Linked DNA regions of Homo sapiens. The protein of the gene in region 2 purifies or fractionates together with the protein of the main gene of each other region. This does not show direct contact. Each region holds a gene or a part of one and is shown on either strand. Other genes may lie near its edges.

The links.
Region 1: the proteins of CCDC124 (region 2) and ADARB1 purify together in Homo sapiens (affinity purification with western blotting; one study listed by BioGRID). This does not show direct contact.

What each region holds. Positions count from the first base shown.
Region 1 is NC_000021.9:45,182,375-45,186,193, forward strand, and holds part of ADARB1 (double-stranded RNA-specific editase 1), read left to right. Parts: intron 1-210; coding exon 211-379; intron 380-987; coding exon 988-1,136; intron 1,137-2,099; coding exon of another isoform or gene 2,100-2,219; intron 2,220-2,548; coding exon 2,549-2,717; intron 2,718-3,819. UniProt on the Homo sapiens protein: Catalyzes the hydrolytic deamination of adenosine to inosine in double-stranded RNA (dsRNA) referred to as A-to-I RNA editing.
Region 2 is NC_000019.10:17,935,964-17,939,782, forward strand, and holds part of CCDC124 (coiled-coil domain-containing protein 124), read left to right. Parts: intron 1-446; 5' UTR 447-457; coding exon 458-616; intron 617-3,819. UniProt on the Homo sapiens protein: Ribosome-binding protein involved in ribosome hibernation: associates with translationally inactive ribosomes and stabilizes the nonrotated conformation of the 80S ribosome, thereby promoting ribosome preservation and storage.

The DNA.
Region 1 (3,819 bases), on a different chromosome or scaffold from region 2:
CAAAGTGAGTCCTCAATAGGAGGTTGTTTGCGTGTATACATTTGCCCACTTAAAAAATAGGTGGTAAGAATATGCATGAAGATGAGCTTGAAAAGTCTGTTGGCCCCTGAAAAGTTAAGTCACTGAGAATAAGAGTCAGACTTCAGGAGCACAGTTAGGCAAACATTACTGTGAATTACAGAAAATAGTGTCTCTTTTTTTTTTTTTCAGGCACAGATGTTAAAGATGCCAAGGTGATAAGTGTTTCTACAGGAACAAAATGTATTAATGGTGAATACATGAGTGATCGTGGCCTTGCATTAAATGACTGCCATGCAGAAATAATATCTCGGAGATCCTTGCTCAGATTTCTTTATACACAACTTGAGCTTTACTTAAAGTAAGTTTAGTAAACAAATAAGGACAGGAAGCTCTTTTTAAAAAATATTCCTCTATTAGAAAACATTGCAAAACCTTTCATTGTTTCTGTAATCATGGAAAATCTCTCAAAATCATAACTTTAATTAGTAACAATAAGGCTGCATCCCATTCTTCCACAATGCTCAACACACATATGCACACATACATACAATAACATAACATGGTCATAAATTTCAAGTCTGTGTTTAAGACCATGTGATTTTGTTGTATGCTGTATAAATAGAAGTTCCCAAACTGCCAGGTAAAGATGGTAATTTTTATTCTAGTCACCGTTTCTAGAAAGAGCTAGTCATGTATCCAAACTCCTTTTCTTTACAAAGCCATTTTTTGTATGTGGTCTTTCTGTTCTGAAGTCATAAATTGGAAGAAGGAAAGGTTACTCACATCCTGATGACATATCCATTATTGAGTGACAAGAACTGTATTAATTACCCTAAACATGTAAAATAAATATTCCAGTTCAAACTTATCTTTCCCTTGTGGAAAATACTAGCCTCTGAAAATGATAGACTAAAATTTAACTATATACAGCTTTAAATGTTACTTTTGCAACTTTTTTCCTTTCAGTAACAAAGATGATCAAAAAAGATCCATCTTTCAGAAATCAGAGCGAGGGGGGTTTAGGCTGAAGGAGAATGTCCAGTTTCATCTGTACATCAGCACCTCTCCCTGTGGAGATGCCAGAATCTTCTCACCACATGAGCCAATCCTGGAAGGTATGAGACGAGATTCTTCAACAAGCCAGTTTCTCAAGAAAATGTTAACAGATAAAAACTAACCTGTGTTAATATCCCTTTTCCTTTTTTTCTTTTTATTTTTAGACTTGGATGTGGATCTGATAAGAGTCTCTATAAAAGCATGGATTTTTTTCTTTCCAATTAACTTAATTAGAAAACTTTAATGAATGAAAAATGCTGATTGTAATTAACCAAGTAATTAGAATGGAGTGAGAATATTGGATTAAAATTGTATCAGTATTTAAATTTGGGTAATAAATATCTCTAAATCAGAGGTGTATGTGATCCTCCATATTTCTGAGGAATTCTAATTTGCTAAATGTGTAATTAAAGTATTTATTTGCCTGATATTTCAGAAGCAGATAAACACTAGTGAAAAGTGAAACCACTATTGTGATCATATTTTTTTCCATCCTTCTTTACATTTGAGGTTAGCACTTTTGTTTTTTAGTGTTTTGTATCTACATCCCTTCTCCCAAGCCCTTAGGCATTGTTTATTCCAAATAGAACGTTTTATTACATTACTTTCCTTGTTTATAAAAGCAACAGGCATACTCACTGTGGAAAATTGCTAACTATTTTTAAAATATAAGAACATTAAAATCATCCGTATTCCTGTAACCCAGAAATACTCACTATGGATGTTTTACCATACTTTCCATGGGTTTATTTCTGCATCTGTCTAGATTTATTTTGGAAATTTTAAAAATATAGAGGAAAATAACATGGCAAACACCCAAGTATCCATCACCCAGAATTAGCAAATGTTAGCATTTTGTCCTATTTGCTTCAGTGCATTTTTAATGATAGAAATAAATCATTTCAGTTAAAGTGAAAACCCCATTTCCCCAACTCCCTTGGAGACCACTTTTGTGAATTTTGTTTGTGTTATGTCCTTCCTACTCAATTTCATATAATTTTTTTTTTTTTTTTTTGAGACAGGGTCTCGCTCTTACACCCAGGCTGGAGTGCAGTGGTGCAATCATGGCTCACTGCAGCCTCGACCTCCTGGGCTCTTAAGCGATCCTTCCACCTCAACCTTCCAAGGAGCTGGGACTACAGGCATGTACCACTATACCTGGCTAATTTTTATATTTTTTATAGAGATGGGGTTTCACCATGTTGCCCAGGCTGGTCTTAAACTCCTGGGCTCAAGCGATCCACCTGCCTCAGCCTCCCAAAGTGCTGAGATTACAGGTGTGAGCCACCATACCCAGCCTCTCAGCTTCACATACTTATTTTGTATGTGTATTTTGTATGTATGGCATAAACATATGCATTTATATGCACAGACTGTATTTTAAATTTATAAGCTATTGTTAGATGTGCTTTTCAATAAATCAAATAGATGGTTTACTACCTGTGGGGTTTTAACTCTTTTTCTCTCTTAGAACCAGCAGATAGACACCCAAATCGTAAAGCAAGAGGACAGCTACGGACCAAAATAGAGTCTGGTGAGGGGACGATTCCAGTGCGCTCCAATGCGAGCATCCAAACGTGGGACGGGGTGCTGCAAGGGGAGCGGCTGCTCACCATGTCCTGCAGTGACAAGATTGCACGGTAAGGGGCGGGGGCTCCCTGTGGCCACCTCCCTGCACACAGGATTCATCCATACTGTTTGCCAACCTCCCTTTTCCACAACCATTTGAATTTTGGCCCCATTTCCCACTCAGGTGTTCCACAGTATTCTTTGAAGGACTGAGGTTCTAAACAGGTGCTGCTGGGACCCCCGTGAGGGGCAGCAGCAGGACCTAGACACAGGAGGCTCCACGCTTCTAACATTCCTATCCAAGCGTCTCAGAGTTTACCACTTATTTTTAACGTGGGCTTCTGGGTTAAACTGATGTTTTTAATGGGCTACAGGCCATGACATCTTAAAACTACTGGCTTCTCCTCATTAGTAGTAGATGCAACTTCAGTGGTCACTTTCATCATTCAGTTAACATTTTAGGTAGTTGATATGTGCATTTTAAAAGTAATGCAAACCCTGTCACAGGCATTGTGTTCTAAGCACAGAGAGCATCCCCAGCCATTCTGTGCCTGGGTGTGGGTTAGGCTTAGAGGAGGGCTCTGCAAGCACACTTCTGTAGTCAGCAGGCACCTGGGAGATATTCATCTTTCAGAGGCCTGTATCCAGAGCAGATTATAGAAAACCCATTTCTTCAGATGGTATCAGTTCCAGTAGTTCTTTGTTTTCATTTTTAAACTAATGTTTATTTGGAAAAAAAAAGTAACATAAGCAGATGGCAAAAAGCATACAATGATAAAGTTTAAAACCTCCCTCTTCAGAGCCCTCCTGTGGCACCCACAGTGAGTGGGTTTTGACTGTCCATCCAGAAGCTGTCAAAATTGATGCATACGCATGTGCACGTGCACATCTTTTCATTGTTTGTGTGCCCTTTATGTTGATTTCCTTCAGTGGGTCTTGTCAGGCAACCTCAAGTACAGGGAGCTGGATTAATCACACATTTTGGGCCATTGCCCACAGCCCAGGTGACCACTGTGATGTGTTTATTTATTATTTGTCCTTCCAGTCCACCTCCACACGTGCATATGTCAACTTTGTGTGTGTGTGATGTGGGGGAGGGGGGTGTACTCTTGAAAAATACACAATAGAATTATTTGGAGTATTTGTTGCTAATTTACAGAAATGATACTATGC
Region 2 (3,819 bases):
GCACGATCTTGGCTCACTTCAACCTCCACCTCCCGGGTTCGAGCGATTCTCCTGCCTCAGCCTCCTGACTGGCTGGGAATACGGGTGCACACCACCATGCCCAGCTAATTTTTGTATTTTTAGTGGAGATGGGGTTTTGCCGTGTTGGCCAGGCTAGTCTCGAACTTCTGACCGCAAGTGATCCGCCCGCCTCGGCCTCCCAAAGTGCTGGGATTACGGGTGTGAGCCACCAGACCTGGCCTAAATGAGCTCATTTGGTGTCATGATGTGAATTTTGCCTTAATAAACTTTTACAAGGAGAGCGCTAAGTCCAAAGCCCTTGTTTTATACAGAGAAGGCCACAGAGGCCCCAAGAGGGTCATGGCTGCCCAAGTGTGATTCTGGGGGTGCTGAGTGCCGATGTCCCCTCCGGCCCCTGCTCCCCCATCCCCATCCTCTTCCCGCAGCCTGCTGAGGGATGCCCAAGAAGTTCCAGGGTGAGAACACCAAGTCGGCAGCGGCCCGGGCACGTAGGGCAGAGGCCAAGGCGGCCGCTGATGCCAAGAAGCAGAAGGAGCTGGAGGATGCCTACTGGAAGGACGACGACAAACACGTCATGAGGAAGGAGCAGCGCAAGGTGCGTGCACTCCGAGTCCCCGCGGCCCGCATGCCTTGTGGCCAAGGCCAGTGGTCATTATGTCAATGTGGGTGAATAGCGAGAGGGCCCTCTGAGCTTTGGTCTGAAAGGCCAGGAGGGACCAGGCGCTGTCGCTCACGCCTGTCATCCCAGTACTTTGGGAGGCCGAGGCAGGCAGATCACCTGGGGTCAGGAGTTCAAGATCAGCCTGGCCAACATGATGAAACCCTGTCTCTACTAAAAATACAAAAATTAACTGCGTGGTGGCGCACACTTACAGTCCCAGCTACTCTGGAGGCTGAAGCAGAATTGCTTCAACTGGGAGGCGCAGGTTGCAGTGAGCCGAGGTCTCCCCGCTGCACTCCAGCATGGGCAACAGAGCGAGATTCCATCTCAAAAAAAAAAAAAAAAAAAAAAGAGGCTGGGCAGAGTGCCTCATACCTGTAATCCCAGCACTTTGGGAGGCCGAGGTAGGCATATCACCTGAGGTCAGGAGCTCAAGACCAGCCTGGCCAAAATGGTGAAACCCTGACTCTACTCAAAATACAAAAATTAGCCAGGCATGGTGGCAGGCTCCTGTAATCCCAGCTACTCGGGAGGCTGAGGCAGGAGAATTGCTTGAACCCAGGAGGCGGAGGTTGCAATGAGCTGAGATTGTGCCGTTGCACTCCAACCTGGGCAACAGAGTGAGACACTGTCTCGGAAAACAAAAAGCAAAATGCCAGGAGGCACTGGAGATGGCAGAGGGGAGGGAGGCAGAGGAAATGGTGTGTGGAAAGGCCCTGGGGTGGCACAGTCTTGCTTGTCTGTGGACAGTGAGGCTGTCATTGCTCTCTGTGGATGTTTCTCTCCTTTGAGTAATGTCAGGGTTGGGCTAGATGGTCATTCTCACCGTGGAGCTACTCTGCCCCTGAGGACGCTTGGCAACACCTGGAGATGTGTTTGGTTGTCATAACTCGGGGAGAGGGGGTGTTGCTGGCATATAGAAGGTGGAGACCAGAGATGCTGACACTCTAGAATGCACAGGACGCCCCCACAGCAAAGAATGAGCCAGCCCCAGATGTCAGCAGTGCTGAGGCTGAGAAACGCTGTGATCAGGCCCCCATTTCCAACCTGTTGACCCAGGTCCACAGGTTCTTCTAGGTGTTTATTTTATTTTTGTTGTTGTTGTTGAGACAGAGTCTCCCTCTGTTGCCCAGGCTGGAGTGCAATGGCGCGATCTCAGTTCACCGCAACCTTTGCCTCCTGGGTTCAAGTGATTCTCCTGCCTCAGCCTCCTGAGTAGCTGGAATTACGGGCATGTGCCACCATGCCCAGCTAATTTTGCATTTTTAGTAGAGATGGGGTTTCTCCAGGTTGGTCAGGCTGGTCTCGAACTCCCAACCTCAGGTGATCCGCCTGCCTTGGCCTCCCAAAATGCTGAGATCACAGTCCTGAGCCAATGTGCCCGGCCCAGGTGTTTATTTTTTAAAAGCCGTCGTTTGGCGTGGTAGCTCATGCCTGTAATCTCAGTACTTTGGGAGGCTGAGGTGAGAGGATTGCTTGAGGCCAGGAGCTCCAGGCCAGCCTGGGCAACATAGCAAGACCCCATCTCCACAAAACATGTACAAATTAGCCATGCATGGTAGTGTGTGCCTGTGGTCCCAGCTACTTGGGAGGCTGAGGTGAGAGGATCACTTGAGCCTGGGAGTTCAGGGCTGCAGTAAGCTATAATCGTGCTACTGTACTCCAGCCTGGGCAACAGAATGAGACTGTGACTCAAGATGAATCAAAAAGCCCAGGGCCAAGCACCATGCTTCATTGGTGTCTGGGTTGTGGTTTAGGGCTGATGCTGACCTGCTTGGCCCAGTAGGTGGCGCCAGTGACCCATGCTAGCCACAGCTCCTGGTTTCCACACCCTGGGTAGCTGAGACACTGGCCCTCTAGGCAACCCCCCAGCTTAGGGGCTGCTATCCTGACAACATGCCCAGTTCTTGGGGGGAATCTGGACATTCCCACCTGTTTTACCCGTCATCTTTTTTTTGTTTTTTTAAAGACGGTCTTGCTCTGTCACCCAGACTGGAGTACAGTGGCAGGATCACAGCTCAATGCAGTCTTGACTTCCCGAACTCAAGCAAGCCTCCTGCCTCAGCCTCCCAAGTAGCTGGGACTATAGGCGTGCACCACCACGCCCAGCTATTGTTTGTATTTTGTGTAGGGGGTGGGGGTCATCTCACTGTGTTGCCCAAGTTGGTCTCAAACTCCTGGGCTCAAACAGTCCTCCCACCTCAGCCTCCCAAAGTGCTGGGATTACAGGCATGAGCCACTGCACCTGGCCTCCCATTGTCTTTCTGTGAAGGGGTAGATCCTGCCTTGTTTTTAGCACACATTCAATGTCCCTGGCTTTCTTCCAGCCCCACCCCTACCCACCCTGCTGCACTGGGTCCATGGAGATATTTATAGTTTGGGGGTTGGGGGATCATCAAAATTTTGACACTATAGGAAAGTTGAAAACTCAAAAGGAAAAACAATGTCTGTCAAAGATGCAGTATCCATCCGGGTGCGGTGGCTCACGCCTGTCATCCCAGGACTTTGGGAGGCCGAGGCAGGCGGATCACCTGAGGTCAGGAGTTCGAGACCATCCTGGCCAACATGGTGAAACCCCATCTCTGCTAAAAATAAAAAAATTAGCTGGGCGTGGTGGCGCGCACCTGTAGTCCCAGCAACTCAGGAGGCTGAGGCACAAGAATCACTTGTACCTGGGAGGTGGAGGTTGCAGTGAGCCGGGATCGCGCCACTGCACTCCAGTCTGGGTGACAAAGCAAGAGTCCATCTCAAAAAAATAATAAAATAAAACAAAAAGATCCAGTATCCAGACAGAATCCAGAGACCTTTCCGCCCATAGTGTCAAGATCATTGGCTTAATCCTCCCTGTGGCCTGCGTCTTGGCCACTGGGGTTGGCCCCATCCTCTGGATGAGGAAATTGAGGCAGAGAAGGCAGAAAGCCCAGATCACGTGGCTATGAGGAAGAGCTGGAGCCAGACTGGCACCTTCTCCTTTGTTAAGAGGCTTTTTTTTTTTGAGGCAGAGTTTCACTCTGTCGCACAGGCTGGAGTGCAGTGGCGCGACCTCGGCTCACTGCAACCTCTGCCTCCCAAGTTCAAACAACTCTCCTGCCTCAGCCTCCCGAGTAGCTGGGATTACAGGTGTGCGCCACCATGCC